Linked DNA regions of Homo sapiens. The protein of the gene in region 2 interacts with the protein of the main gene of each other region in a pairwise test. Each region holds a gene or a part of one and is shown on either strand. Other genes may lie near its edges.

Region 1 (8,200 bases), on a different chromosome or scaffold from region 2:
AGGCTCTCGGGACTGTGATCCACTTCCCCACAGAGCCTGCCCTCCTGGGATGGGGCCTGTGAGTGTCTAGCAGAGAGGCCGAGGCATGGCCTGGTCTGCAGTCCCGATGGTCTCCTTTCCCTCATTCCTCCTTTAGGAAGGGACATGGTGCAGAGAGCCCAGGTAAGCAGTGAGGACCCCACGACCTGTGTCCAAGGGTGGCGCTCAGCAGAGGCGAGGGCCACAGTCTCAGGTTTCCCTGGAGCCAGGAACCATGGAGGAGGGGGTGGGCAAGAGGAGGGAGTGGATGGAGAGGGAGGAGGAGGAGGTGCAGGAGTGGACTCTGCAGGGAGACAAAGGGCCGTCAGAGAAGGAACAAGGCACCCCTGTACTCACCTTGCCAGCTGGAAGTTGGCCACTCCTCGCTGGAAGAAGCCAACCGCCATGCAGGTGTCCTTGGTCACGGCTTGGTCAAATGCCTGGGGACAAAAATGCCCACGGGATGCCAAGGTCTGTAACCTGGTCACGCAGCATCACAGATACAGCGTGATGGGTGACAGGGCCACGGAATTCCGTCAGCCCCTGGGGACCCCCCACAGCCCCTCCTGCTCCTGTCCAGGAACCTTCGGAGCCCCTGCCTGGGCAGGGCTGTCGCCACTCAGGTTGCCACAGCCCACCCAACCCCAACCCGTCCAAGGCGCAGAGCCCACTGAGGTGCTGCTAAAACCAATGTGTTTACCATGAGCACAAGGACAGAGGCCAGAAAAAAGTGTTCCAGTATGTTAATAATAGTTACCTCTGGGGAGTGGGGTTATGCAAGATTTTTGTCTTTTAAAAATCCTTTTTTTTTTTTTTGAGACGGGGTCTCGCTCTGTCACCCAGGCTGGAGTGCAGTGGCTCGATCTTGGCTCACTGCTGCCTCCGCCTCTGGGTTCAAGACATTCTCAAACTCCTGACCTCAGGCAACCTTGGCTGTCACATACTGGAGACGAGATAACGCAGTCCAGATCCCAGAGTCAGCAGCTAAAGAACTGCATTACAGGCCGGGCATGTTAGCTCACGCCTGTAATCCTAGCATGTTGGGAAGCTGAGGTGGGCGGATCACCTGAGGTCAGGAGTTTGAGACCAGCCTGGCCAACATGGTGAAACCCCATCTCTACTAAAAATACAAAAATTAGCTGGGCATGGCGGCACGCGCCTGTAGTCCCAGCTACTCGGGAGGTTGAGGCAGGAGAATCGCTTGAACCCGGGAGGTAGAGGTTGCAGTGAGCCAAGATCGCACCACTGCACTCCAGCCTGCAAGACAGAGCGAGATTCCGTCTCAAAAAATAAATAAAATAAAAATCCTTTTTTGATAGTTCATGCAAAATGACACCCTAGAAATCTATTAGAATCAGAAAGAACAACACACGTCTTCATGTGTTTATCTGTGTGTAAAGCACAGCTCTTCCTTAAACCAGACTCAGGAGGACACAGAAGGTTCTGAACAGGGACCGTGGCCATCAGTTAAATGTGTGTGACAGGAAGGGTGCTACGGTCTCTTTCACAAATCTGGCTGAGTGGGGGCTTGTCGTTGAACCAAGTTCACACAGGTGTGAAGTGTGGCGGCTGAGCACAGGCACGCAGCCCTGATGTGGGGTGGCGGCTCAGGGCCAGCAGAACCCACCTGTCTGCCCCAAACGTCACGCAAGGCTCCTAACAAGAGACAGCAGTTCCAGCGACACCCTCTGCACCCTGGGCTGCCCCTCACGTGATCGGCTTTATGAATCATAGCTGTTCCATCTGCTTTCCTAAGTTCCCATATTCCTAACATGCATATGCTGTGGGTTAGTCGTATGACTTTCACTGCGTCCCCTCTCTGTAGTGAAACCAGGCACAAGAGCACAAGTGACTGGGTTAGCCCCGGACATAGGATTTGTTGCTGAACCACCTGGTGTCTAAAGATTACATTCCCTTTCTTGGATAACATTTTAAAATGAAATCATTGTGGGCCGGACAAGGTGGCTCACATGTGTAATCCCACCACTATGGGTGGCCGAGGAGGGTGGATCACCTGAGGTCAGGAGTTCAAGACCAGCCTGACCAACATGGTGAAACCCGTTTCTACTAAAAATACTAAATTAGCCAGGCGTGGTAGTGGGCGCCTGTACTCCCAGCAACTAGGGAGGCTGAGGCAGGAGAATTGCTTGAACCCGGGAGGCAGAGGTTGCAGTGAGCCAAGATTGGGCCACGGCACTCCATTCAGCCTGGGTGACAGAACGAGACTCCATCTTTGAAACAAACAAAAAAATGAAATCATTATGGAGGTGATTGTAAATTTGTACGCAGCTTTAAGACACAAGAGAGGGGGGTCTCATGCGCTTTGCCCAGTCTCCTCCAAGGGGGATATTTTGCCAGTCAGGGGCGTGGAGACCCTCCCACAGCGCGCAGTTCCCTCTCCTTTAAATCACTGCTGTCACCGAGCCTTCAGTAACCGTGGGCACCTGCCTGCTTCTGCGGGGTGCTTGGGACTGAGCGGGGGTGGGCAGCGCTGGCGTTTGGGATGCGCAGGAACAGGCGGCCCCGGAACGCGAGGGGGCACGAGAAGGGCACCGGGCTCCGTGCAGGGCCTCGGCCGCTGCACCCTGGCACCCTGGACTCCTGGCTGTTTCGGGGAGTGGGCTGGGGGAGGGCTGAGGGCTCTGAGGAGGAGACTGACCCGGTCTCCCGGCCATGACCACAGGCGCAACGCTTTCCCCTTAGGGCAGGGCGGTCCCTCGGGCCTGACCCAGCCCAGCAGCTTCCCCCTTCCCGGTGTGAGTCACCCTCGGGCCCCGGCCTCTCCCGGTGACCGCCGCGCCCCCCAGCGCGGCCTCGCTTAGCTCAGGTGCGGCCCCCCTGCTCGGCTCCCACCTGCCGGGGCGTTCGCTGGGTCGGGGGCGGCAGGGCGACCCCGTGACGGTCGGGGAGGGGCGCTGGGCCCTCCCCAGGGGCTCGAGGCGGAGGCGTCGCCCGCACCGGCCTCCCCACGCCCCGCTCACCCGCAGCGCGGCCTCGGGGTCCCCGGCCAGCAGGTGCACGCAGCCCGCGTTGAAGCACAGCCTGGCGGGCGGCGCCGGGACGCCCGAGAAGAGGTGCAAGGCGCGGGCCCAGTCCCCACGATCCACAGCCTGCGCGCCCAGGTGCCAGGCGCGCACCAGGTCCCCCAGAGAGGCCATGGCGGCCGGTGGCGGCGCTCGAGGAGGGGCCAGGATCCCGCGGAGGGGCCGGGGCCGGGGCCAGGCGGCGGCGCGGGGCTGCGGGGTCTCCGAGGCGGGCAGAGGTGCGGGCGCCAAGCGCCAGGTGCAACCCCGCTGCCCCGCGGCGCCCCCTGGCGGCAGGCGCCCGCCCCTCCCCGGTAAGGCCACGCCCCCGCCAGAAACGGCTACGCCCACTCCAGACCCTCAGGCCTCGCCCACCTCCCATTCGGCCCCCGCCCCGGCCGGACTTCCGCCGGGAGCTTTGTGCGCCCGGCTTCCTCGCCCCGCCCGCGCTGGCCTTGGTGCGCCGGATAAAGCCCTCCGGGCCAGCGGCTGCGGTCGGGCCAAGGTTCCGCGCCGGGCGTGGACGGTGTGGGGCGGTCCCGGCCCCGCAGGTGAGCGACCCCGGGCCGCGCGGGCCAGGTGGGCGGTCTGGGCGCCGGGGGCAGAGCGGGGCCGGGCCGGGTGCGCGTCCTGAGGTGAGGGCCGTAGCTGGGAGTGAGCCGGGGGCGGGCCGCCGGCTCTCCCGGGGTGGGGAAACTGAGGCCCCGATGGGGCGGGGAAGGTGCGTTCTCCCGCAGGGCCCCGCTCCGGAGGCCGCCGAGCAGCCGGACGCCGCGGGGAGCTGAGCCGACCCCGGCGACCCCGCCGCCCTGTCCCGCAGGGCCTGCCCTCCTCCGCGCCTTCCGAGCACGGACATCACAGGACCCGGAGGCCCTTCGCTCCCTCGCCGAGGAGGAGGCGCTCCCGGTGGGACGCGCGCGCGCCCGCCCTGCCCTCCCCGGGAGAAGGGACGGGCGCCTCCCTGCAGGGGCCCTGGCTTCCTGTCCACCGGCGCTGAGTCCTGTATTAGTTGTCAACCTAAAATAATTAAAAGGGTCAGAATGTGGTGCCCGGTGGGTTTATTCAGGCACAGAGGTCGAGGGCGGCCTGGGTCACCAGGTGCAACGGAGAACAAAACAGAGGCTCAGGTTTTTAAAGAAAACAGAGCCCATCGGAGAGCAGGTGGTTTCGAACGTTGCCCAGGAGCTCACTGGCTTGTAGAAATGGCATTGGTTCGCGATTGACCACGGCTTGGTGTCATCAGTGGATAGTTACTTGGCTCGAGGGGTAGTGAGGGGCTGCGGTTTCATTTGAAATGCTTTCTGGCACTTAACATCAAGCTTTCTGGGCCCACAGTTTAAAAGGGCTTTACATTCCTCAGATAAATGATTTTTTTCTTTCTCATTTGCCCCCCTTTTGATCAAAATCTTTCTTCTTGAAAGCATTGATTATCAAAATCTGAGGGTCAGAGTGTCCCCTCTTGCTGGGAAGGCTCATTCCCACATAGTCCTGTCCCATGCCAAGCAGGGAAGGAGGAGACATTTCAGGGAGTTTTTTTTTTTTTTTTTTTTTTAAGAACACCACAAACTGAATTGGAATGGCATTACAGGGTGGCAAACATGAGGTCTCAGTGAAGTCATTAATTTATACAACTGCTGTCACCTGTTGAATCATCTCTAGTTTTTAGAAACACCATTAATTTTAATTTTCTCAGAAGTAACACATAGGACTATAACCAATTTGTATGCCAGGATGAAAAAAACAAACCTGTTCCATTAGGGAGACAACTAAAAACATGAAGAAACTAAAATCCATGTTCTTCTTTCTTTTTATTTATTTGTTTACTTAGAAATGGGGTCTTGCTCTGTCACCCATGCTGGAGTGCAGAGGCACGATTCCCACTCATCGCAGCCTTGAACTCTTGGGCTTAAATGATCCTCTTGTCTTAGCCTCCTGAGTACCTGGGAATACAGGTGTTTGCCACCAGGACCGGCTAATTTTAAATTTTTTTGGTAGAGACTAGGTCTTGACACCTTGCCCAGGCTAGTCTCGAACTCCTGAGCCCAAGTGATCCTCTCATCTGGGCCTCCCAAAGTGCTGGGGTTATAGGTGTGAACCTCTGCCCAGCCAGGTTCTTCTTTGAGACTTGTAGCCAGAAGATTGTTCAGGATTTAGTCCAGATTGTAGGAAAATAAAAAATACAATGATCAGGGCTAGAATCCAGTAACAGGTATGCTGTAGTTTTTCTCTGAAACATAATTTTTCTCTACTTCCCCATTTCTACCAAAGATAAATCTTGGTAAGACCAATTTACTTGTAAAATAAATTTTAGGATTATATTTGGCCTGATTATTTGCCTAAAGTACAACAGTGGTGATTGGCCATATAGGCTCCTTTCTAAACTGGCTGGAACTTTGCCATAAGGAATTTCAGACTTTTTTTCCCCACATCAGACAGGTAATGTGCTGGCGTCATAACAGCGTTTGAAGGAGACAGACCCTACACATGAGGCAATCATCATGCTTATGAACTACAAGAGGGTCAGAATAGACCTTTAAAAGCCACTTGAGGGCTGGGCATGGTGGCTCATGCCTGTAATCCCAGCACTTTGGGAGGCCAAGGTGGGAGGATTCATTGAGCCCAGGAGTTTGAGACCAACCTGGGCAACATAGCGAGGTCCCTGTCTCCACAAAAAATTTAAAAATTACCTGGGCATAGTGGTGCTCACCTGTAGTCCCAGCTACTCAGGAGGCTGAAATGGGAGGATCGCTTGAGTCCAGGAGATTGAGGCTGCAGTGAGCTATGATCGCACCACTGCACTCCAGCCTGGGTGACAGAGCGAGACCCTGTCTCTAAACAAAACAAACACTTCCCATGTCTAGGAAGCCAAGCCAGTGGCTCCCCATCACAGTGTATGTATAATACCTGTATGAATTTGGGGGGGGGGGTGAATGTCTGTCCTCCAGGTCCCAAACTATCTTGAAGTTCCTGGATCTGTCGGAAAGTGACATTCTTTCCTTACCTCAAGGCCAAGAACCTTTTAAGGGAACTATGTAAACAGGGCACCAGTCCAGTCATCCCAAGGGGCTTTTTATTGGCTCTATAAAGCGAACCTCGATTCCTCAAAGCAGTCTCGTCATATCCAAAAATACGTCATCCCAGTCCAAGCCTTGGTAGAATAACCAGGGTCTCCAATTGTGTCCTGTTACAAGGACAACAGATTCTTACTGAACTCATGCAAAGAACTACATTGCCATAAAATAAGAATACTCATGAATCGCTTCCAGATTTTTGAGAAATCAGGTAGAGAAAAAGACAAATATTTCAGTTTTGCTCACAAAAGTATATGTCACTCAATTGCTATAGCTATAAATAGCTCAAAAAGAAAAAGGTTTTCTGACTCTGGAAAACAAAATATAAAAAGAGTCAGCAAGGTTTCGATAACAACAAAAAATCATAAAAAGCATTTCAGGCCTCTATCAGTTCAGTTCTATGTAATTTGCTGGGGTTTTTTTTGTTTTTTTTTTAGGCGGAGTCTCCCTCTGTCGCCCAGGCTGGAGTGCAGTGGTACAATCTCGGCTCACTGCCAGCTCCGCCTCCCGGGTTCACGCCATTCACCAGCCTCAGCCTCCCGAGTAGCTGGGACTACAGGCACCTGCCACCATGCCCGGCTAATTTTTTTGTATTTTTAGTAGAGATGGGGTTTCACCGTATTAGCCAGGATGGTCTCGATCTCCTGACCTCGTGATCCGCCCGCCTTGGCCTCCCAAAGTGCTGGGATTACAGGCATGAGCCACCGCGCCCGGCCGCTTTTTTCTGTATGATGTTGGGTTAACAATCCTCATGAATGCATCAGCTTTTAAATAAGAGTCCTGGAAGTTTTTATCTGGTCTACTGGTGTGATCTCCCAGGTTATCGGAAGTCTGTATACTTGTCAATGTCCTTTCCATGAATTTCCTTGAAGAAAATGCAAATTTTGGACTGTACCTTATTTTATTTTATTTATTTATTTATTTTGAGATGGAGTCTCGCTCTGTTGCCCAGGCTGGAGTGTAGTGGTGCGATCTTGGCTCACTGCAACCTCCGCCTCCCAGGTTCAAGCGATTCTCCTGTCTCAGCCTCCCAAGTAACTGGGATTACAGGCATGAGCCACCATGCCCAGCTAATTTTGTATTTTTAGTAGAAACGGGGTTTTACCACATTGGCCTGGCTGGTTTCGAACTCCTGACCTCAAGTGATCCACCCGCCTCAGCCTCCCGAAGTGTTGGGATTACAGGCATGAGCCACCGTGCCCGGCCTTAAACTGCATTTTGAGAAGAATCAAAGTAAAACAGTAATTTTCTGCAGATGACAAAAGACTTAGAGTAGCCATGGGTGAAGACGCGATTGGCAGGGAATTTGGTTACTTCTGAGGTTAAAACAGTTTAACATATAATCGTAATCACGACTGATAACATATACCAAGACATGTCAGAATTTTTAGGAATCTCATACAATTTTGGAACATATGTTAATAATACATTTATACCAATATAACTCCAACAGCATTCCACATTTGACAATGCTTCCTGTATGATTTTAACATACCACATAAGCCTCGTACATCTCCCTTGGACTTCTCGGGGTTCCTATTTGTTATATCCAAGTTAGTTCAGGTGAAAAAAACCCTTAATGTTAGGACTTGAAATTTGGTTTTGGGAAGTCAAATATCAGAGGCTTAAAACAATCTCAAAATAGGACCACAGGTCACTGTAAAATAAGCCATTCATTTAATCAAATTGGTAATTCAGAGATTTCCCAAACCAAAAACCTTTACTATGACAGAGAGGAGACTTAGTTTCCCAAGCAATCAATAGACCTACTAAAGACAGCGTGAGGCAAACAGAATGTCTCTCCCTCTTTCCCCTTTTTTTTTTTCTGTTTACTCAGAAGATAAAAATATTTTACAATCTCTTATTACTACACGAAATGTTGTTCAAAAGAAAAACAAACTCTGCTTTTCTTATACATCTCACGTACAGAATTGTTTCTCTTATATTTAGTAGTTTCAGTTACATATATTAATTACAGTGTTAACTTCGTGACCCTAATTTTCCGTTAAAAACTCAGCGAGTAATTTTGAACTGTATGTGTAGATGGAAACCATTTCATCATGTTTTACAGAGATGCATCTCCTAAAT
Region 2 (7,010 bases):
TCAGTGTTATATATAATGTTTCTTCAGTGTTTCTTCAAGCCTCCTGTTTCGGAGACATGAAGGTCTAGGTTTTAAATGTTTACTCAGTCTGGGCAAGTCATAGAAAATATTATTTATTGGGTATGGGAATATGGCAGCAAGATCTAGCAGAAGGCAGCGAAGGGAAGCCATTTGGGCACCAGAAAGATACACATGTCCATCCCAGATTTGCTTTGGAATAGCCTTGTCAATGGGGCAAGTTGCTTAATGCTCTTGAGCCTCAGTTTTCTAATCTGTCAAACAAGGATACTAATGCCTACCTTGTAGGATGGTTAAAAGATTTGAGATAACGGATGTCAGGTGGCTGGAACTTGCTGTTTCGGAGTTAGGCGATAAGAATGAAGTAAACAATAATTAGGTAGACAAGAACAAGGCACTCAGTGCACCTATTTTGCCAGACTTCACAAACATCCTGTTTGGATCCCTGCTGCTGCCATTGCAATTTTTTTTTCTCACAGAATGTAGTCTCTGCCAAGTTTAAATAAACTCCAAAGGATTATTGGTAGCTTGCAAAGTAAGATTTGGGCTTTGCATCAGTGAAGAGTCTTGAGGATAGGCAGAGATACCAACAAGGAGAAGCATTTCTCCTGCTCCATGAAAATGTGATTCATTCCTTCAATGAAAAAGTCAGGGGCTTGTGCAGGCACAACAGCTGTGGTTTTATGAAGGGAAAATAATCCAGAATTCCTTGTGGTGGGGCTGCTCCCACAAGGGGTCAGATCTGGATTATTGCTGGAGGCTGGCATCATCCCACAGTGACACAAGCATGATTGGATATCACATAACTTGAAATAACTGGCAATTGTTTTAGGTGAGAAAAGCTCAAGCAAGAGCAAACCAGACCAGCTCAAGTAAAGGCTTCAGTGTCTTTGATCTGGGTCTGACTTGAATGCCTGGAGTCAGAACAGAAGAAGGAACACGGTTATCTTTGAAGCTCACACTGGTTGCTGGTTGCCCACTCAACAGATGTGAGCAGTTTAGTTGTCACCATAAATCAAGGGCTCCCCCACAATGTTATAAATAGGGATGGGTAAATATTTTGGATTCATCAACCTCCAAGTATGCCTCAGATGTTTTGGGTTCAACTAAACAGAATACATCATGCAAAACACATACCCTCCTTGATTTTTTAGGACCGTATGTGATTTATGGAAAATAGAATCCATATGTTTCTGCTTCATTTACACTTAAATCTTCAAAAGGTTGTGTGTTGTAAGAGCTTTTTGATGTCGAAGATGCCTCTGCGCATGCTTAAAAAAAAAAAAAAATACGAGCAGCTTAAAAGTTTTGGTCGCTCGGAAAGACCAGAGAGACACAGAGACAGGGAGAAGGAGACAGAGACAGAGCACCCAGGAACGCCTGTTTTGCCAAGATGAAATACATTTGAACACCAGGAAGTTCAATTCTGACTGAAACTATAAACCCATGAATTAAAAATGAGTCCAGAATTTGGGAAGAAACAAAGGCTCCACTCCAGCCAGTTTTAGAAGCAGCTTCGATGAATACAGAAAAGCAGCTGGCAACTCAGCCACAGCACCAGGGAAGAGACGGCCGTGAGTGCACCATCAGCTACAGCTAACAAAGCCTGCAAGCTCTGTTATTCTTGGGCCTCCTAAGAGTTGCTCCAGCCAGGATAGAGACTCTGCCCTGCTTTAGCTCAGAAATATCCACTCTCGTGATGTTTTCCTGAGGTTGTCCTGTCATAGGCCAACACTTCCTGTCTCTTCTGCCATCTGGCCCAAATAGCCAGCCACTGGACTGAATATTGGGTGTGCATTTGGGATGATGTTTATTTATTGGGCACTTTCTTTAGAGAAAGATCACATTTAGTTCACAATAAGGCCGATAAAACATGCAGTTTGTGTAAAGTGAAAAGTGTGTTAACTAGGGGCCTACAGGTCAGTAAAAGGCAACAGGTAAAACAGGGTTTTCTTGCCGCCATCTCAACATTTACTCACTGATATTATATCAGCTCTATGTCATTGTATGCATGTATTATTATTTGTATATGTATCGTATGATTTCAGAAGCATCTTAATTAGAAATATTTTATATCATAAATTAGATATCTAGAATAGTTAGAGCGTTATTGCAAGTTAGGATGTGAAACGTTACTGTCCCTTGGGATCTCTAGACTGTGTGGCCTGAAGAGTCACTTCAGCAGAATTAAGAGTCCTGTGAATTACCTCCATATCCCAATTACATTATCTGGGGACAAGGAGCAGGGCTGGGGAATATTAGAGGTCAAGTTTTTGTTCTTTTTTTTTTTTTTTTTGCTAACCAGTAAGGAACATTCAGTAAAAATGTTCCTTAATCTCACCACTCATAGGTAGCCACTGTTAACACTGGGATGTATATTCTTTGAGTTAATTGTGTGTTTGTGTGCACATGAGCACACACAAAGAATTTGATGAGATTATACTATTTATTCTGTTTTGTAGCTTCTCTTTTTCATTTAGCAATATATTGTAAACTTTTTCCCAGGTCAATAAACTGTTGCCTCATAAGCTTTAATGCTTGCAGAATATTTAATTGTAGAATTGTACTACAATTATCTTAATATCTCAGAGTATTTTGAAATACGAATCTTGAAAACACTGCTTCAGATATATTTTTAAATACTGGCCTTAGTTTTTAAAATATTTTCTATGTTTTAGGACATGTTAGAAAAATAGATTAAGCATAGCTTCTACATCTTGTGGTTGCTTGCCTTTTAGACCAAAACATAGAACATGCTTTGAGAGCCATGGAGACTATCCATCTTCCCTGTTTTAGAGGAGACCAAGCTCTTCTTCTTCTTCTTTTTTTTTTTTTTTTTTTTTTTTTTTGAGATGGAGTTTCGCTCTTGTTGCTCAGGCTGGAGTGCAACGGCGCTATCTTGGCTCACTGCAACCTACACCTCTCGAGTTCAAGCGATTATCCTGCCTCAGCCTCCCAAGTAGCTCGGATTACAGGTGTGTGCCACCATGCCCGGCTAATTTTTGTATTGTTAGTACAGACTGGGTTTCACCATGTTGACCACGCTGGTCTTGAACTCCTGACCTCAGGTGATCCACCCGCCTCAGCTTCCCAAAGTGTTGGGATTACAGGTGTGAGCCACTGCGACTGGCCCAAGCTCTTCTATATAGATGGTATTAGTATTAGTCAGGGTTCTCTAGAGGGACAGAACTAATAGAATAGATGTGTATATGATGGGAAGTTTATTAAAATGTATTGACTCACATGATCACAGGGTAAAGTTCCACAATAGGCCATCTGCAAGCTGAGGAGTAGGGAAGCCCAAAACCTCAAAAGTAGGGAAGCCGACAGTGCAGCCTTCAGTCTGTGTCCAAAGGCCTGAGAGCCCCTGGCAAACCACTGGTGTAAGTCCGAGAGTCCAAAAGCTGAAGACCTGGAGTCCAATGCTCTAAGGCAGGAAGCATCCAGCATGGGAGAAAGCTGAAGACCAGAAGACTCAGCAAGTCAAGTCCTTCCACATTTTCCTGCTTTATTCTGGCCACACTGGCAGCTGATTAGATGGTGCCCACCCAGATTGAGGGTGGGTCTGCCTTTCCCAGTCCACTGACTGGAATGTTAATCTCCTTTGGCAACACCCTCACAGACACACCCAGGAACAATACTTTGCATCCTTCAATCCAATCAAGTTGACACTCAATATTAACCGTTACAGTATTTTTTAAAGTCCCTAGAAAAGATCAATAAGATAATCAGTAAATATTGTTTTCTTTTCTTCTTTAAAATAAAACGCTGTGTTTCTACATCAAGAAGAGCCTGTGACTTAAATTTATCTGTCCCTGTTGGTTGCTCAGTCCATCGGTAAAGTTCCTGGAGTCAATTTAAAAGAAAGCTGAAATCCATACCTACTTTGCTCTGTTTCCCATCAGTTACTAGAGAACTCAGTCCCGTCCCTTTTGTTGACAGGTTGCCAGGATACATCCAGGCAACAAAGACTGCGGTTCCTGTTACTCAGCAGCCTCAAAAACTCACACCAGCTCCTGCAAGGAATGTGAATCTTGGAGCTCCCAGCTATTCTGTTCCTGTTTCTGTCAGCTCCTTCCCTGAAAACTCAGAGGTGCTCAGCATGCCATGCTAAAAGGCAAAATAAAAAGGTAAAGAACAAATGTCACAAGGTGAGGCTCTCGCAGGGTGTGTGCATTCTCTGTTGTCTGGTAGGTCTTAAACCTTTCAACTAATAACAACTGCTTCTCTTAGATATTCTTGTTCTCTTCCATTGGCTTCTCACCAGTATTCAGTAAATATTTCCTTGCTATTGGGAAGAAATACAAATGACGATAATAATAATAATTAGTTCTTAAGTGAAAAATCTCAAGTATTACTAAACAAAACAATAAATGTCATTTTACTTCTTTGGATGCTGACAATGATGAGTGAACTATGGATTAGATGTTCTAATACCTAAAAAATAATAAAATTGTATTTAAAAGAATGATTTTTAAAATAACTTTCTTCAAAGAAAAGTAGATGAAGTCAGGTTTTAACATTAATTCAGAACTATATGTTTATTAGCCAGATTATCCATGAAAGAAAAGGGGTATTAAAGGCTATAATTACTCAGTTGTCTTGGCTTTTTTTTTAATTATTTGAGATAAAATCAACATGGAGTAAATTGTAACCAATCTTGAGTTCTTAAATTCAAGTTTCTAAAATCAATGAGTTTAACAGGTATATACAACCATGTCATGGTCACCTCAGTCAGGGCACGGGACATTTATTTCACCCTGGAATGTTTCCTCACATCCTTTCCAGCCAATCTTCCCTCCACAGGGGGCCACTGTTTTGATTTCTGTCCTCAAAGAATAGTTGGCCATTCATGAACTTTATATGAATAGAATGATACCATATATATTATATTGTCAGACTGACGTCTCTGGCTCAGCAGAATGTTTTTTCAAGCATTTCAATGTGGGTTTTTAAGTCAGTAGTACAATTCTTTTTAAAGGTAAGTATAATTGCATTATATGCTTATTTTACATTTGTTTATTACATTGATTGGTAGTTTGTTTGTTTCTAGTTTGGTCCTCTTATAGCTAAAGCAGCTATAAAGATTCTTCCACAAAGTATTTTTCTCCTAATTTTATTTTTTATGTCTAACTTTTTTCCAGCTTTATTGAGGTATGACTGACAAATAAAAATCACATGTATTTGGGGTTTCTCATGAAATGTGTTGACATATGTAGACATTGTGAAATGATTACCACAATCAAGCTAATTGAAGTATTCATCATATCACATAGTTACCTTTTTTTGGCTGTGGTGAGAATGCTTGAGATCTACTATCTTAACACATTTCAATTATTATTAATTATAATAATTCTTAATTATAATCACAATGCTGTACATTAGGTTTCTAGCATTTACTCATCTTATAGCTGAAGGTTTGTACCCTTTGCCTATCTTCCCTTCGTCTCATCCTCCACTCATGGTAACCATTATTGCACTCAACAGGTAGGTATATGAAGATGCTCACCATCACTAATCATTAGGGAAATGCAAATAAAAATCACAAGGAGATATTACCATACATTTGTGAGAATGGCTGTTAAAAAGATAAAAGATAACAAGTGTTGGTGAGAATGTGGAGAAATGGGAACCCTTATACACTGTTTGTGGGATTGTAATTTAATACAGCCATTATGGATTATGGAAAACAATATGGAAGTTCCTCAAAAAGTTAAAAGGAGAACTACCATCTGATCTAGCAATCCCACTGCTGGGTATATATCCAAAGAAAATGAAATTAGTATATTAAAGAGATATCTACACTTCCTTGTTCATTGCAGCATTATTAACAATGGTCCATATGTGGTAACAAATTATCTATCAACAGATAAATGGATAAAGAAAATGTGGTATAAACATACAATAGAATATTATTGAACCTTAAAAAAGAAGAAAATACTGCTATTTTCAACAACATGGGTGAAACTTGAGGACATTATACTAAGTGAAATAAGCCAGATAAGGAAAGACAAACACTATGTGATCTCACTTATATGTGGGGAAAAAAAAAGAAGCCTGCACAAGTCTTATTAGATATATGTTTTTATTTATTCTGGATTCGGACCCAGGAGTGAAACTAATGAGTGATAGGGTAGATATTTGTAATAAATATGGAATAATATGTCACAGTGGTCATAATTTGCATATTCCTGATGACTAATGGAGTACTTTTCATGAACTTCTTGGAGATTTGTATCTTTTTAAAAATTATCTATTCATACCTTTTACCCATTTAACATTTTTTCTTTTTAATGTCTTTTTCATTGATGTATAACTCACATATAATAAAATGCACCCATTTTAAGTACAAAATTTGATGAGTTTTGACAAATGATTATATCCATGAACCAACAAAGACGTAAATATAAGAAAACGTCCATTAACCTTTGTAGTCAATTTTCCTTTCATGCACCTACCCACCAAACAATAACTGATATACTTTCTGTCACTACAGATTAGCTTTGCTTATTCATAGAAATGGAATAATTAAGTACCTATACTTCTTTAGCATTTGACTTTTTCGGCAGCACATTATTCAAAGGGATCCATGTAGTGTATATTAGTAGTTTGTTCATTTGTATTGTGAAACAATATTCTATTGTATGAATATGCTATAATTTTGTATTCATTTATCCATTGATGTATATTTATGTTATTTCCAGTTTTTCACTACTATGAGTAAAGCTACTGTAAACATTTGTAAATGACTTTTTGTGGACATATACTTTCATTTTTTTAGGTAATTATTTAAAATGTCAATACCATTGGGTATTTTAGAATTTAACTTTATAAAGTTAAATTTTTAGATAATCCAATTTTTAAATATATGTCTTGCAAACAGTTCTTCCCAATCTATGTCTTGCCTTTTAATTTTCTTAATTTTTTTAATGTGCAGAAGTTTATAATTAAGAGAAAGTATAATTTATTATGTTTTCTTTTATACTTAGTTC
Region 3 (8,057 bases), on a different chromosome or scaffold from region 2:
GCTACGGAGGAGGCTATGCCCCTGAGGTTCTCTCTCAGTCTGGAACTGCTCTTATTATCATCACACACCATGTTGCTTCCTGCCTCTGTGTATTTGCACACATTTTTCCCCTGCACAGAAGGCTCTTTCCTCCTTTCAGTAACACCTTCCACCCCCATACACACACACTCCCCCATCACCCAGCAAAATTCTACTCAAACTTTAAGAATCAGCTCACGTGTCATCTCCTCCGAGAGGCCTGCCACAGCCCCCAGGGCTGGGTCAGGGACCCTCTGCTGAACTCCCATGAGTCCCTGTGCTCCTTTCTCCCTGGGCATTGCACAGAGATAGATTTATCGTAGAACAAATCAATCTTAAGCATCAGGGCCCCACACTTGCACAGGCCACTTCCAGGTCTCTGGTTATTGAGCCTGGTCTATTTGAAGAATGTTTAAGATTTGTCGCTGTGCCAAGAGAAGTTAAAATAACCTGAAATCTTACAGCTCACATGTAAAAGAAACTAGAAATTTTCCCAAGTTTGACAAAAATCTTAAAATGTACATTACTAATAATGAGTTGTGAAATTGAAACTTTTCTAAAATACTAATAATAAAAAATTTTACTCAACTGAATTGAAATCAATTGAATTCTTTGTGTTCTCTCTAGAAAATATAAAATACTTGTCATATGAAGAGTTCTATAAACTCTTTGATATCAAAAAATGTAGAAAAATTAGTAGAGAGGTGAGTCATGTAATTAATAAGAATATTTTATTTTGGCAGGGCGTGGTGGCTCATGCCTGTAATCCCAGCACTTTGGGATGCTGAGGCAGGCGGCTCACCTGAGGTCAGGAGTTTGAGACCAGCCTGGCCAACATGGTGAAACCTTGCATCTACAAAACAAAAACAAAACAACAAAGTAATATTTTATTTTTCTGGGTTAGAAGATGTTTGTGACATTTGTCAGTTTTTAAAAATTTGTAATTTGTAAATTAGATTTCTAATTTTAAGGAAATACTTTCATCAATAAATCAACAAATAAGTAAAGTGTACAATTCAATGGCTTTTAGTATAGTTTCTTCTGATTTGCTCCTTGGCTTTCTCCTTAGCTTTCTCACTGTGTGTTCACATAGTTGTCCCTGTGTGTACACCTCTCTGGTGTCCCTCTTTGCCTGTGTCCTCATCTCCTCTTATTATTATATTTTGTTGTTTTTTGTTTTTGAGACAGGGCTTGTTCTGTCACTCATGCTGGAGTGCAGTGGTACAATCATGGCTCACGGCAGCCTCAACCTCCTGGACTCAAGTGATCCTCCCTCCTCAGTCTCCTGAGTAGCTGGGACTACAGCCATCACACTCAGCTAATTAAAAAAAAAATTTTTTTGTAGAGATGGGGGGTCTTGCTTTGTTGCCCAGGATGGTCTCGAACTCCTGGCCTCAAGTGATCTGAGCCATTGCACCGAGTTCTAATCTCCCCTTCTTTATAAGGACATCAGTCATAACGGATTAGGGCCCACCCATGCAACCTCATTTTATCTTAATTACCTTTTTAAAGGCTCTATCTCCCAATACAGTCACATTCTGAGGTACTGGGGGTTAGGGTTTCTACATATGAATTTGGGGGGTGGTGGATACAATTTAGCTCATAACAGCAACCATTACCTCGTCTAATTTTTAGAACATTTTCGACACCCCCAAAAGTAGCCCTGAAGCCATTTAGAAGTCACACTCTATTCTTTCCCCATCCAAGCCCTGGGCAACCATTCATGTATTTTCTGTCTCTATAGATTTACCTATTCTGTATATTTCATATAAATGGTATCATACAATATGTGGTCTTTTTTGACTGGTCGGTAATTATACGTCCTCTTTCGTTCCTGATTTCAGTAATTTGAGTCTTCTTTCTTTTATTTCTTCCTCAGTCTAGCTAAGGGTTTGTAAATTTTGTTGATCTTTTCAAATAACTGACTTGGCCAGTTGCATTTGCTCACACCTGTAATCCCAGCATTTTGAGAGGCGAGGCAGGTGGATCGCTTGAAACCAGGAGTTCAAGACCAGCCTGGGCAACAAAGTGAGACACCCCCTCCCAACACACACACACACACACACACACACACACACACACACACACACAACCACACACACACACACACACACACACTAGCCAGGCATGGTGGCCTATTCCTGTAGTCCCAGCTAATCAGGAGGCAGAGGCAGGAGGATCCTTTGAGCCCAGGAGTTTGAGGCTGCAGTGAGCAATGTTTGTGCCACTGCATTCCAGCCTGGGCAACAAAAAAAGACTTCATCTCTGAAAAAAAAATAACCGCCCAGGTCCGGTGGCTCACGCCTGTAATCCAAACACTTGGGAAGGCTGAGGTGGGCAGCTCACTTGAGGTCAGGAGTTCAAGACCAGCCTGGCCAACATGGTGAAACCCTGTCTCTACTAAAAATACAAAAATTAACGGGGCATGGTGGCATATGCCTGTAATCCCAGCTACTCTGGAGGCTGAGGCAGGAGACTCCTTTGAACCTGGGAGGCAGAGGTTGTAGTGAGCTGAGATTGCACCACTGCACTTCAGCCTGGGTGACAGCACCAGACTCCATCTCAAAACAAACAAACAAACAAACAAAAAACAACAACTGACTTTTGGCTTCACTGTTTTTTCTTTTCTCTATTGTTTTTCAATTCTCTATTTCATTTATTTCTGTTCTATTATTTATTATTTCCTTTCTTATGCTTGCCTTGGGATTACTTTGCTCTTCTTTTTCTGGTTTTGTGAAGTGGAAGTGTAGGTTATTAATTTGATATCATTCTTTCATTTTTTATTTTTTTGAGACAGGGTCTTGCTCTGTCCCCCATGCTGGAGTGCAGTGGCACAATCACGGCTCACTGCAGCCTTGAGCTCCCAGGCTCAAGCAATCCTCCCACCTCAGCCTCCTGAGTGGCTGGTACTACACGCATATGCCACTATGCCCATCTAATTTTGTTTGTTCGTTTGTTTGTTTGAGACAGAGTCTCACTGTGTCGCCCAGGCTGGAGTGCAGTGGAGTGATCTCAGCTCACTGCAACCTCTGCCTACCGGGTTCAAGCGATTCTCGTGCTTCAGCCTCCCAAGTAGCTGGGATTACAGGTGTGTGTCACCATGCCTGGCTAACTTTTGCATTTTTAGTAGAGACAGGGTTTGTTCATATTGACCATGCTGGTCTCAAACTCCTGACCTCAGGTGATCTGCCCACCCAAAGTGCGGGAATTATAGGTGTGAGCCACCATGCCTGGCCTAGTTTTCAAATTTATTTATTTATTTAGTTTGAGACAGAGTCTCACTCTGTTTCCCAGGCTGGAGTGCAATGGCACCATCTCGGCTCACTGTAACCTCCGCCTCCCGGGTTCAAGCCATTCTCCTGCCTCAGCCTCCCAAGTAGCTGGGATTACAGGTGCTTGCCACCAGACCTGGCTAATTTTTGTATTTTTAGTAGAGACGGGGTTTCACCATCTTGGCCAGGCTGGTCTCGAACTCCTGACCTCAAGTGATCTGCCTGCCTTGGCCTCCCAAAGTGCTGTGATTACAAGCGTGAGCCACCACACCTGGCCTAATTTTTAAAATTGTTTTTAGAGATGGGGTCTCACTATGTTGCCCAGGCTGGTCTTGAACTCCTGAGCTCAAGCCATCCTCCCGCATCAACCTCCCAAAGTGCTATGATTACAGGCATGAGCCACCATGTCCGGCTCTTCTTTTTAGATATGCATGTTTACAGCTAAAGATTTCCCTCTAAGTTTTGCTTTAGCTGCATCTCATGCATTTTTTTATGTTTTTGTTTTCATTCATTTAAAAGTGTTTTCTAATTTGCTTTGTGATTTTTTTCTTTGACCCATTTATTGCTTAGGAGTGTGTTAATTTCCATATATTTGTGAATTTTGTAAGTTTCTTTTTACTGATTTTTAACTTCTTTCCATTGTGGTCAGACAACATACTTTGTATGTTCAATCCTGTTAAATCTATGGAGGCCTACTGTATGGCCTAGTGTATGATCTGTTCTGGAGAATGTTCTTGTGTACTTCAGAAAAACATGTACAGTTATCCCTGGGTATCCGTGGGAGACTGGTTCCACGACCTCCGGAGGATACCAAAATTCATAGATGCTCAAGTCCCTGATATAAAATGGCATAGTATTTGCGTATAACCTATGAATATTCTACTGTATACTTTAAATCATTTCCAGATGTGACTCACGCCTATAATCCCAGCAATTTGGGAGGCTGAGGCAAGTGGATTAAACCCAGGAGTTCGAGACCAGCCTGGGCAACATGGCGAAACCCTGTCTCTACTAAAAACACAAAAATTAGCTGGGAGTGGTGGTGGGCACCTGTAATCTCAGGTACTCGGGAGGCTGAGGCACGAGAATTGCTTGAAACCAGGAGACGGAGGTTGCAGTCAGCCGAGATGGCGCCACTGCACTCCAGCCTGGGCCACAGAGTGACACTCGGTCTCAAAAAAATAGATAAATAAATAATTTCCAGGTTACTTATAATGCCTAATAAAGTGTAAATGCTATGTATATAGCTGTTATACTGTACTGTTTAGGAGAATAATGTCAAGAAAAAAAGTATACACATGTTCAATGCAGATGCAATTTTTTCCTGAATATTTTCCATCTGAGGTTAGTTGAATTCACGGACGTGGACTGCCCCCCATAGGGAGAGCTGATTGTATTTTACTGTTGTTGGTTGCAGTATTCTATACAGATGTTAGGATGCTTTTTTTAAATGCAGATTTTTAAGGCTATACTCACTGAGTCCTCTGCCCCAGGGCCTGGAATCTGTATCTGTAATAAGTTCCCCACATATTTCCTCCGCAGTACCCACGGATCCGGAAACCATGGCCCCACACGTCCTTCAGGTCTGGTGTCCTTTGATTTAAGTGAGTAACTCTGGTGGTGTCATCGATCGCTCTGACAGATTTTTCTTTTGCTCTAGTCTTGCTGCCAGGTCTGCGGAAAAGAGAATCCTGTGTTCTCAGGCTCGGCTTGCGTCTCGTTCTGCCTGGGCCGAGCTACAGAGGGATTGGGCCGCCGGGACGTCACGTGGACTGGGGCCGGATAATGGCGGGCGCTGCAGAAGATGCGCGAGCTCTTTTCCGGGCTGGGGTCTGCGCGGCCCTGGAGGCCTGGCCGGCCTTGCAGGTCAGTGGGGCCAGGGCCAGGGCAAGGTCAAGGTTAGGGCCCGGGGCAGAACAGGAGTTGGTTGGGCTAGGTGCCTGAGGCTTGGCTAGGCGGCATAAGAGGAGTTGGCTGGGCGGCGTAAGCGGCCTCCAGGCTACTCCAGGTCTGCTCCCAAGCTGACTTGGTGGGCTTGGACCTGTGTTTACAGATCGCTGTGGAGAATGGCTTCGGGGGTGTGCACAGCCAGGAGAAGGCCAAGTGGCTGGGGGGTGCAGTGGAGGATTACTTCATGCGCAATGGTGAGTGAATGTGAGGCGCCGCGACCCGCCTGTGTGGGGGTGTGGAGAGGAGGAGCCCCATCCCGCAGAGCCTGCATTTCCTCTCGAGCAGTTGTGGATTGGTACCTAAAGGTGAGGTGGAATGAATTCAGCTTTTAGAATCAGAATCCTGGATTCCAGTGCTTTACGGGCTGTACCACTGACTCGTGGGATTACTCTGGACAAGGCAGTTTACCTCCCTGAGACTCAGTTTCCTAGTTTCTAAAATGCGTATAAAAGTATCCACCAGAGCGCTGTACAGTAGAAATATTATGCTAGTCACATATAATTTAAAATTTTTTAGTAGCCACTTTAATAAAGCAAAAAGCAGATGAAATCAATGTTAGTAAACTCGGTGTGTATGAAATATTTCAACATGTAGTCAGTATAAAACATTGAGATATTTTACATTTTTTAGTATTAAGTTTTCAAAATCTGGTATTTTACAGTTTTAGCACATTTCGATTTGGCCTAGCCATATTTCAAGTGCTCAGTAACCACCTGTGGCTGTTTGGACAGCAAAGATCTACACTGTAGGCTCGTCTTGAGGGATATACAAGAACAAGAGGCCCAGTAGAGGGCCTGTTGCATAGTATGGTTTTTAAAAAAATCTTCATTCAATTTCTAGCTTTGGAGATGACATTAGGCAGAGTCATCTCTCTCAAGAAAGTATACTATCCATTGAGGATCCACACACGTAAATAGTTACAACATTGATAGATTTTCTGATAAAGAGGAGCTCAGGGTGCATGGGGTAACAGGATGGGGAGACAGCTTCTTAGTGGAGGTGGTGAATTGGGCTGGGTCTTAGTGAGAAGGAGTTAACTAGGTGGGGGAAGCAGAGAGAGCAACACTCAAGTTCTGTGGCATGAGGGTATAATGTGTTATATTTGGAAAGTAGCAGGGAGCTCAGTATTGGAGTATGGGCGTGTGTGCGTGGGGGGTGGAGGAGTGGTAGAGAATGAAGCTGGGGTGTGGGAAGCCCCCTTGAAAAGCATAAGACATGGAAGCCCTTATGTGCCTTTGATTTTATCATTTAGGCCAGTGTTTGCCAAAATTCATGCTAACTAGTTCTGTTAGATGTTCAGTGAAGAAGCTTCTCCAGTTACCTTATGTAAGAAAAACTCTTGTTCTGCTCCCACTGAAAAGTCTTAACACTCATGAACATATTAAAGGCTTGGGTAAGAATAAGAACCACTAAAAAACCTGTTTGCTTTTGTTTCTCATTAGCTTTCTATGGATAGTGTCCCTTAAGACCCAGCAGAACAGATATTTCTCAAAGGCAAACTGTGAAACACTGCAGTGGCTGGTAAAAATTCGTGGGCAGGTTCTAGGGTGAGAAATAGGATGGGATTTGCTGGCTAGAAAGTTCAGGAAATAATCAGTATGAAGCATAACCTGGAGAGGGAAAGACTGATGAGAACGCTGTTTTTGTCTAGAAACTGATGAGGCCTGAAGTAGGACAGTGGCAACAGGCATGGAAAAGAAGGGGTGGAATAGGGCCTTGGAGATTGGTTGGCTGTAGACAGGGAGGGAAAAAGAGGCAAGTTCCTGGTTTGAGTTGATGGGTGGATTAGGTGTCTTTTCTCGGAGTAGAGGAACCCTGGAGGATGCGAAGCAGGTTTAAAGAGTAAGGTGATGAGTCTGGCTTTAGATATGGAAGATCTGCGGCATCTGTGAAACGTCCAGGCACAGAGTAGTCTCAGTTGGAGATAAATTCGGGGGATATTAAGTTTGAGTGGTAGGGAAAGCCAAGAGTGTGGATGAGCTCTCCCAGAGAAAGCACATAGAGGGGAGAGGGCTAGGAGCTTTGTGGGAGACTTTCTTGAGTTACTGTCTAATTCAGAAAAAGTAGAGCATAGGCCCATAGGTAACTGAAGCCCAGAGAGGAAGGTGGCTCAGTCAGAGTCACACAGTAGGATGTCAGTGTCAAGGCTATGATGATTTCATCATTGGAATTACTATGTCCATTTCTTCTTAACTATCCCATTGGTCTGTGGCTTCTTTTATCAGTGGAACCACAGTTGTGAAGGTTCTCTTCACTTCAAAAACTTCAGCTTTTGCATGATAGAAATTAACATGGATCATGGATCTTCACTGTGCTAGGCATTGTGTTGGATGGTTCCTCATAACAGACCTTTGAGGAGGCCACCATTAGCCCCACTTTACAGATGAGAAAACTGAGGCTCAGAAAGAAGTAGCTTGCTCAAGGTCTCATAGAGGGGAGGCTAGTTAGAATAGTCCAGATGAAAGAGGGTGAGTGTAGGGCTGGGAGTTGTGGAAAGAGGCCTTGGTAGGATGGAAGAGATTGGAAATGAGGTATTAATATTTAGTGGTTCTTTAAAAAATTATGTTAAAACCTGGAATGCAGAACACTTTAGCAGATAAAAGGCAGGATGGAAGAGATTGGAAATGAGGTATTTTTAGTGGTTCTTAAAAAATTGTTAAAACCTGGAATGCAGAACACTTTAGCAGATAAAAGGCTCACTGTGCCTTTACCCACCCAGTTGCAGATCCACCAAGTAGATATTGAAGAGCAGTGGGCAGGGGTGATGAAGTTGGCTGGTCTTTGACCCAAGGGCCCTGTCCTTTTCTACTTAGCTGA
Region 4 (7,870 bases), on a different chromosome or scaffold from region 2:
CTATCCCCCCCAAGGATCCCAGGGCCCTGGGCCTCCCCTGAGCCAGCCCCTCCCGGCCCACAGGTGGTGAAGAACAACCTGAACCCGGTGTGGGAGGCCTTCAAAGTCTCTCTGAGTTCCCTCTGCAGCTGCGAGGAGACAAGGCCTCTAAAGGTGGGGGACGGGATGGACCAAGGGGGCAGTGAGGGGGTGGCCTGGATGTGGGCTGCGATGGAGACACCTGGGCTCGGGTGGGAGGGTCCTGGGGCCCCCAGACAGCAGTGCTGAGGAGGACTGGGCTCCCCAGTGCCTGGTCTGGGATTACGACTCTCGAGGAAAGCACGACTTCATCGGAGAATTCTCTACCACCTTCGAGGAGATGCAGAAGGCCTTTGAGGAGGGGCAGGTGAGCAGGACGGGGTAGGGGGTCCTCCAGGGAGGGTCAGGTGGGGGTGGAGGGGGGCCTTCGGGGAGGGGTAGGTGAGCAGGACTGGGGGGGTACCTCCAGGAAGTGTCAGGTGAGGAGGTGGGGGGTGGGGTAGGGGCCTCCGTGGAGGGGCATGTGGGTGGGCACCTCTGGGGAGGAGCAGGTTGGGGGGGCCTTTGGGGAGGTTCAGGTGAGGGGGGCCTCCAGGGAGGGGCAGTTAGCAGGGGGAGGGGGCATTCAGGGAGGGGCAGGTGAGGGGGGCCTCTGGGGAGGGGCAGGTGAGTCGGGGGCACACCTGGGCTACGCCTGTGTTGGCCCTGCCACAGAGGCTGTGAAACCCTGTCCCACTGTCCTGATGGGGTTGTGGGGAGTGGTGACAATGACTTGTTATAACCAGAGAAGGCTGAGGATGGTGGACCCTGGTGCTGGCTCCTGAGGGGTCATAGCAGGGGTGGCCCCCATCAGGTTCAGCTGGACATTTCAGGCACCATCTGGGTCTGGGCACAGGGGTGGTGGGAGGTGGGGCCAAGGGGTGCCCTCCCCTGTGTCTGCCCAGCCCACAGCAGCCGGGTGAGGGTGCAGTGGGGAGGCCACCCTGGGCCCTGCTTCCTCCCCCGTCCCTGGGCCTCAGTGTCCTTGGGCTTAATGACAGGGCCATGCCGGGTGGGGGATGCAACTCCCATCCCTCTTCATTCCCGTATGACCCACTCTGCCCCTTCCTGCTGCCCTGCAGCAGTGCCCTCCCCTCCCCTCCCCACCACGGGGCCCTCTGCCGTCGCTATTGGGGATGGTCTTGGGTAGGGTCTCCCTGGTAGGTGTTCAGAGCCACCACTCTGGGGGGCCTCTGCTTGTTCCTGCCCCAGGCCCAGTGGGACTGTGTGAACCCCAAATACAAGCAGAAGAGACGCAGTTATAAGAACTCAGGAGTGGTCGTCCTGGCTGACCTCAAGGTGAGAGGTGGCTGTGCCCGAAGCCTCCCCACCCACAAGAGGGGCTTCCGCTGCCTCCCTCTGATTGTTGGATGGACCCTCAACCAGAGGCCTGGTGGGCCCCAGCACGTCTGGGGAGGGGCTGAGAGACGGGGAAGGGCGAGGTTGGGGAGAGAGGATGGGGGAGAGGAGAGGAGGGTGGCACCCCAGAGGGACTGGGCTGCCTGCGGGAGGCAGGCCTGGATCCCAGCTGGCACTGGCCTCAGTGTCCCTGGCGGGGGTGGACGCTGACTCCGCCGGCCGGAAGTTCCACAGGGTGTACTCCTTCCTGGACTATATCATGGGCGGCTGCCAGATCCACTTCACCGTGAGTCCATGGCCCCGCCCCATGCCGCCCCCTCAGTCCGTGGCCCCGCCCCGCCCCGCCCCCTCAGTCCGTGGCCCCGCCCCTCCCCGCCCCCTCAGTCTGTGGCCCCGCCCATCCCCGCCCCCTCAGTCCGTGGCCCCGCCCCTCCCGCCCCCTCAGTCTGTGGCCCCGCCCATCCCCGCCCCCTCAGTCTGTGGCCCCGCCCATCCCCGCCCCCTCAGTCCGTGGCCCCGCCCCCGCCCCCGCCCCCGCCCCGCTCCCGAGGGGTCCCAGCCTGGCGGGTGAAAGGGCACTGGCGGTTCCCCGTGAGCCGATGTCTCCATGCGCGGCTCCTGGGGGTCCTCCCTTTTGCGCAGGCGAGGAAACGGGCTTGGGGTTCAGGAAGCAGCCCCAAGCCCGCCTTGGGAGGTGACATCACCAGGGCTTACCTTCCACAAACACATTTAACAACAGACAAAACGTGAACGAGGAGAAACTGGAGTGAGCGTTTGAGTGAACCAGCCACAGTCTCTACGTGTCATCCAAGGAGCCCGGCACAGACCCCGTGTCACCCCCATGTCACCCGCAGACCCCGCGTCACCCATAGATACGCACACCCCGTGTCACCCCCATAGCACCCCCGTGTCACCCACAGATACACGGCCCCCGTGTCACCCGCGTGTCACCCACAGAAACACGGCCCCCGTGTCACCCACAGATACACGGCCCCCCGTGTCACCCGCGTGTCACCCACAGATACACGGCCCCCGTGTTACCCACAGATACACGGCCCCCCGTGTCACCCGCGTGTCACCCACAGATACACGGCCCCCGTGTCACCCGCGTGTCACCCACAGATACACGGCCCCCCGTGTTACCCACAGATACACGGCCCCCGTGTCACCCACAGATACACGGCCCCCCGTGTTACCCACAGATACACGGCCCCCCGTGTCACCCGCGTGTCACCCACAGATACACGGCCCCCCGTGTTACCCACAGATACACGGCCCCCGTGTCACCCACAGATACACGGCCCCCGTGTCACCCGCGTGTCACCCACAGATACACGGCCCCCGTGTCACCCGCGTGTCACCCACAGATACACGGCCCCCGTGTCACCCGCGTGTCACCCACAGATACACGGCCCCCGTGTCACCCGCGTGTTATTTGCAGATGCGCTGGTTCGTGTTTTGTTGAACGAGCCCCAGAATGGCTTTGGGAGAAGCCAGCAAGTGGGAAACGTGGGGGGACCCAGACCAGGCTTGGTCCACTTAGGCCCTGCCGGGGAGGGTGGTAGAGGGGTTGGGCGGCCACTAAGAAGGATGGGCGGGGCCCCCACAAGGCCAGGGTGATCCTGGTGGGGTGTCCTCCCGGAGATCCAGGGAGCCTAGGGGCTGGCAGGTTTTGAGGAGACCTCTCCTGGCCCTGTGTAGCAGGTGGGTCAGCCCCAACAGCAGCCCCCCAGCCCTACCCACCTACGCGACCCCTGACCCTGAGTCCTGGCCACTCTGGGCGTGGTTTCTCTACCTGTCAGGAGCGGGTTCGGGGAGCCCCGGCCCAGCACAGCTCCTGGCTCCCGGCCCACTGCAGGTGGCCATTGACTTCACCGCCTCCAATGGAGACCCGCGGAACAGCTGCTCCCTGCACTACATCAACCCCTACCAGCCGAACGAGTACCTGAAGGCACTGGTGTCCGTGGGCGAGATCTGCCAGGACTATGACAGGTGCGCCCACCACCTTCCCCTCACCCCCTGGTCTCCAGGTCAGCTATGACAGGTGCGCCTGGCCGTCTTCCCCCTCACCCCCCTGGTCTCCAGGTCAGCTATGACAGGTGCACCCGGCCGGTTTTCCCTCACCCCCCTGGGCTCCAGGTCAGGCCTCGGGGCACCATGAGGTGGGCACTGTGAGTTTGTCAGACTGTGAGGGGCCGGGCGCGGTAGCTCATGCCTGTAATCCCAGCATTTTGGGAGGCCGAGGCGGGTGGATCACCTGAGGTCAGGAGTTTGAGACCAGCCTGGCCAACATGGTGAAACCCCATCTCTACTGAAAATACAAAAATTAGCTGGGCGTGGTGGCAGATGCCTGTAATCCCAGCTACTCAGGAGGCTGAGGCAGGAGAATCACTGGAACCCGGGAGGCGGAGGTTACAGTGAGTCAAGATCACACCTTTGTACTCAAGCCTGGGTGACAGAGCAAGACTCCGTCTCAAAAAAAAGAGACTCTGCGAGGAAGGGCTGGGTAGCCCTACTGGAGGCTGCCGCATAGACTCTGCACATGGTCCTGGGGGGACGTCTGTGTCCCGCTTTGCCAGAATAGCAAACCGAAGTCACAGAGGCTTGGGGCTCACCCGCGTATGCTTTACCAGGGAGGGCCCGGCACAAAACCCTGTGCTCTGAGCTTCTTACCACAACACAGACCCCTGGCCTGGGGCTTGGGAGAGGATGCCCTGAGCTCCCTACCCTACAGACCTCTCTTTCTGGGTTGGTGAGGGCCACAGTGGGTTCCTTGGCCCCACAGGACCCCTCCCGTGGTCTGAGAGCCCCCGGGGAGGCGTCTGCAGGGGGACAGCATGTACACAAACGTGGAGTTGGGAGGCAGGCTCGCGGGCGGCAGGACCGTGTCCCCTTGCACACAGGCCTGTGCCTCTGCTGCCCTGAGCCTCGGTTCCCCACCTCTGGCAGGTGCTTACTGCCGTGGTACCAGGCCTGGGCACCCCCAGTCTTTTGGGCGCCAGTCATGTCTCCCTAGAAGTGGCCCCTGTTGCAGCCACAAGAGGTCAGGGCCTCCTGGTGACCTCCTGCCTCTCTTCCAGTGACAAGAGGTTTTCCGCTTTGGGGTTTGGAGCCCGGATCCCTCCCAAGTATGAGGTAGGAGAGCCCAGAACCTGAGACCTCAGAGCTGTGCCCTTCTCGTGCCCTCCCAGGCAGAGGACGGCCTGGCCCAGGGAGCCCTGGCTGCCTGCTGGGAACCGGAGACTGTAGGATGGGATTGGGGTGCAAAGCGGGAACCCCAGCCTTCTAGCCAGAGAGGCTGGCCTTTGGCCTCCTAGGACTTGTTAGCTTGAGGGGTGTCTGGAGGCCAACTCCGTGTTCCTTCAGGAGATAGGGAAGGACGTTAGTGTGGAATCCTCTATTGCACATAACAATTCAGCTAGCTTCGGCCAGGCGTGGTGGCTCACGCCTGTAATCCCAGCACTTTGGGAGGCCGAGGCGGGCCGATTACCTGAGGTCAGGAGTTCCAGACCAGCCTGGCCATCATGGTGAAACCCCATCTCTACCAAAAATACAAAAATTAGCTGGGCGTGGTGGCACATGCTTGTAATCCCAGCTACTCGGGAGGCTGAAGCAAGAGAATTGCTTGAACCCGGGAGGCAGAGGTTGCACTGAGCTGAGATCGCACCACTGCAGTCCAGCCTGGCCTGTAGAGCAAGACTCTGTTTTAAAAAAGAAAAAAGAAAACAACAAAAAACTTCAACTGGCTTCAGCAGAAAAAATGGTGTGTGGGGATTTATTGGCTAATGTAAGCCTCAGGCACTGCTGGATCCAGGGAGGTCTGCCTCCCTCTCTGTTTCATGACTCTGCAGAACATGGTCACCCATGGGTTTGGCTTCCCCTAGAAACTCCAAGCCTACCTCTCTCAGTAGGTGGGGGACATGGGGGCCAGGTCGGGGGAGCAGCTGACTGGGGGACATGGGGGCCGGGGACGGGGGGAGCAGCTGACTGGGGGACATGGGGGCCGGGGACGGGGGGAGCAGCTGACCGAGCCCTCTTTAGTAGGCGGGGGACATGAGGGCGGGGACGGGGGGAGCAGCTGACTGGGGGACATGGGGGCTGGGGACGGGGGGAGCAGCTGACCGAGGGACATGGGGCCAGTGGGGTGTGTTGCAACGAGCAGCTGACTGAGCCCTCTTGTTCCCACCCAGGTGTCCCATGACTTTGCCATCAATTTCAACCCTGAGGACGATGAGTGTGAAGGTAGGAGCTCGAGGCAGGCCTGGGGAGGGGAGTGCAGGGGGGCCGGGCTCACCCCCTGCCCCCCACAGGCATCCAGGGCGTGGTGGAGGCCTACCAGAACTGCCTGCCCAGGGTCCAGCTCTACGGCCCCACCAACGTGGCGCCCATCATCTCCAAGGTGGCACGCGTGGCGGCGGCCGAGGAGAGCACCGGGAAAGCCTCTGTAGGTGCCCGGGGGGTGTGGTGCATGCTTGGTGTGGGGTCGGCTGTGTGTGCACCAGCGCGTGGACGTCAGGGAGGCACCTGGCAGAGGGAACAGCCAGCGCAGAGGCCCCCAGGCAGGACAGAGCTCAGGAGGGCGGGGGCCCAGCTGGTTGACTACGTCTCCCTCAAAGGTGCAGGTGTCTCGGGCACAGGGCTGTCCATCGCCTCACACGGTCACGGCCATGGCTGCAGCGAGGCTGCCCCTCTCCTCTTCCTCTGGGCACCACAAGGCCGCGCACATGTCTACTGTTTGGCTGTGTGTGTATCGTCATTTTGTTTACATGTGTCTTTCCTTTGCACAAATGATACGGTGCCGAGAACTGCACTGGATTCTACTCTGCCACCGTGTGGCCCTGTATGTGTCTCTGGGGCCACAGCCAGCCTGCTGCTTTCTTTTCTTTTCTTTTGTTTTTTGTGAGACAGAGTCTCACTCTGTCACCCAGGCTGGAGTGCAGTGATGTGATCCCAGCTCACTGCAACCTCTGCTTCCCGGGGTTCACGCCATTCTCCTGCCTCAGCCTCCCAAGGAGCTGGGACTACAGGCGCCCGCCACCACTTCTGGCTAATTTTTGTATTTTTAGTAGAGACGGGGTTTCACCCTGTTGGCCAAGCTGGTCTCAAACTCCTGACCTCATGATCCACCCGCCTCGGCCTCCCAAAGTGCTGGGATTACAGGCGTGAGCCACCGTGCCCGGCATTCTTTTTTTTGTTGTTTTTTTTTTTTGAGACGGAGTCTCGCTCTGTCACCCAGGCTGGAAGTGTAGTGGCGCAATCTCCGCTCACTGCAACCTCCCCCTCCCAGGTTCGCGCCATTCTCCTGCCTCAGCCTCCTAAGTAGCTGGGACTACAGGCGCCCACCATCATGCCCGGCTAATTTTTTTTTTTTGTATTTTTAGTAGAGACGGGGTTTCACCGTGTTAGCGAGGATGGTCTCGATCTCCTGACCTCGTGATCCACCCGCCTCGGCCTCCCAAAGTGCTGGGATTACAGGTGTGAGCCGCCGCGCCCGGCCCAAAATAATTTTAAACTCACCAAAAAGTTACAAGAGCTCTGAGGTCCTGCAACCCGTGAGGCCAACAGCTGCTCACACATTGCGCTCCTGCTTCACGTCTGTGTAGTTGTTGTATTTGTATGTTTTCTTTTTCAATTTTTTTTTTTTTTTTTGAGATAGAGTCCTGCTCTGTCACCCAAGCTGTAGTGGTGCAATCTCGGCTCACTGCAAGCTCCACCCTCCGAGTTCAAGCAATTCTCCTGCCTCAGCCTCCCGAGTAGCTGGGATTACAGGCTCCCGCCACCACGCCCGGCTAATTTTTTGTATTTTTAGTAGAGACGGGGTTTCACAGTCTTGGCCAGGCTGGTCTTAAACTCCTGACCTTGTGATCCACCCGCCTCGGCCTCCCAAAGTGCTGGGATTACAGGAGTGAGCCACCGCGCCCAGCCCAAATTTTTTTTATTGTGATAAAATATGCACAGTTTAAAATTTACCATTGTAACCATTTTTTTCTTTTCTTTTTTTTTTTTTTTTTTTGAGATGGAGTTTTACTCTTGTCACCCAGGCTGGAGTGCAGTGACGTGATCTCGGCTCACTGCAAGCTCCGCCTCCCGGGTTCACGCCATTCTCCTGACTCAGCCTCCTGAGTAGCTGGGAGTACAGGCGCCCGCCACCATACCCGGCTAATTTTTATATTTTTGTAGAGATGGGGTTTCACTGTCTTGGCCAGGCTGGTCTCAAACTCCTGACCTCAAGTGATCTGCCTGCCTCAGCCTCCCAAAGTGCTGGGATGGGATTACAGGTGTGAGCCGCCGCACCTGGCCTGTAACCATTTTATTGTATCCAGTTCAGAGGCACGAGGTACATTCATGATGATCAAACATCACCCGTCTACTTACATCTTCAAGCCAAATGGGAACCCTATATCTGTTTGCATCTATTTTTAATTTATACAGATAGTATCGTGATAAAGACTTT

Evidence for each region.
Region 1: the proteins of ZNF474 (region 2) and NOXA1 interact in binary tests that used the Homo sapiens proteins (3 or more experiments, as listed by UniProt).
Region 3: the proteins of ZNF474 (region 2) and TSR2 interact in binary tests that used the Homo sapiens proteins (3 or more experiments, as listed by UniProt).
Region 4: the proteins of ZNF474 (region 2) and CPNE7 interact in binary tests that used the Homo sapiens proteins (3 or more experiments, as listed by UniProt).

Annotation. Positions count from the first base shown.
Region 1 is NC_000009.12:137,418,506-137,426,705, reverse strand, and holds the start of NOXA1 (NADPH oxidase activator 1), read right to left. Parts: upstream 3,314-8,200; 5' UTR 3,177-3,313; coding exon 3,000-3,176; intron 461-2,999; exon of another isoform or gene 459-460; coding exon 376-458; exon of another isoform or gene 1-375.
Region 2 is NC_000005.10:122,125,536-122,132,545, forward strand, and holds the start of ZNF474 (zinc finger protein 474), read left to right. Parts: upstream 1-4,010; 5' UTR 4,011-4,148; exon of another isoform or gene 4,149-4,306; intron 4,307-7,010.
Region 3 is NC_000023.11:54,435,347-54,443,403, forward strand, and holds the start of TSR2 (pre-rRNA-processing protein TSR2 homolog), read left to right. Parts: upstream 1-5,057; 5' UTR 5,058-5,075; coding exon 5,076-5,156; intron 5,157-5,343; coding exon 5,344-5,434; exon of another isoform or gene 5,435-5,545; intron 5,546-8,053; coding exon 8,054-8,057. UniProt on the Homo sapiens protein: May be involved in 20S pre-rRNA processing.
Region 4 is NC_000016.10:89,585,401-89,593,270, forward strand, and holds part of CPNE7 (copine-7), read left to right. Parts: intron 1-63; coding exon 64-153; intron 154-286; coding exon 287-385; intron 386-1,269; coding exon 1,270-1,356; intron 1,357-1,642; coding exon 1,643-1,702; intron 1,703-2,155; coding exon of another isoform or gene 2,156-2,194; exon of another isoform or gene 2,195-3,274; coding exon 3,275-3,408; intron 3,409-4,496; coding exon 4,497-4,551; intron 4,552-5,606; coding exon 5,607-5,658; intron 5,659-5,726; coding exon 5,727-5,860; intron 5,861-6,797; coding exon of another isoform or gene 6,798-6,800; exon of another isoform or gene 6,801-7,870. UniProt on the Homo sapiens protein: Calcium-dependent phospholipid-binding protein that may play a role in calcium-mediated intracellular processes.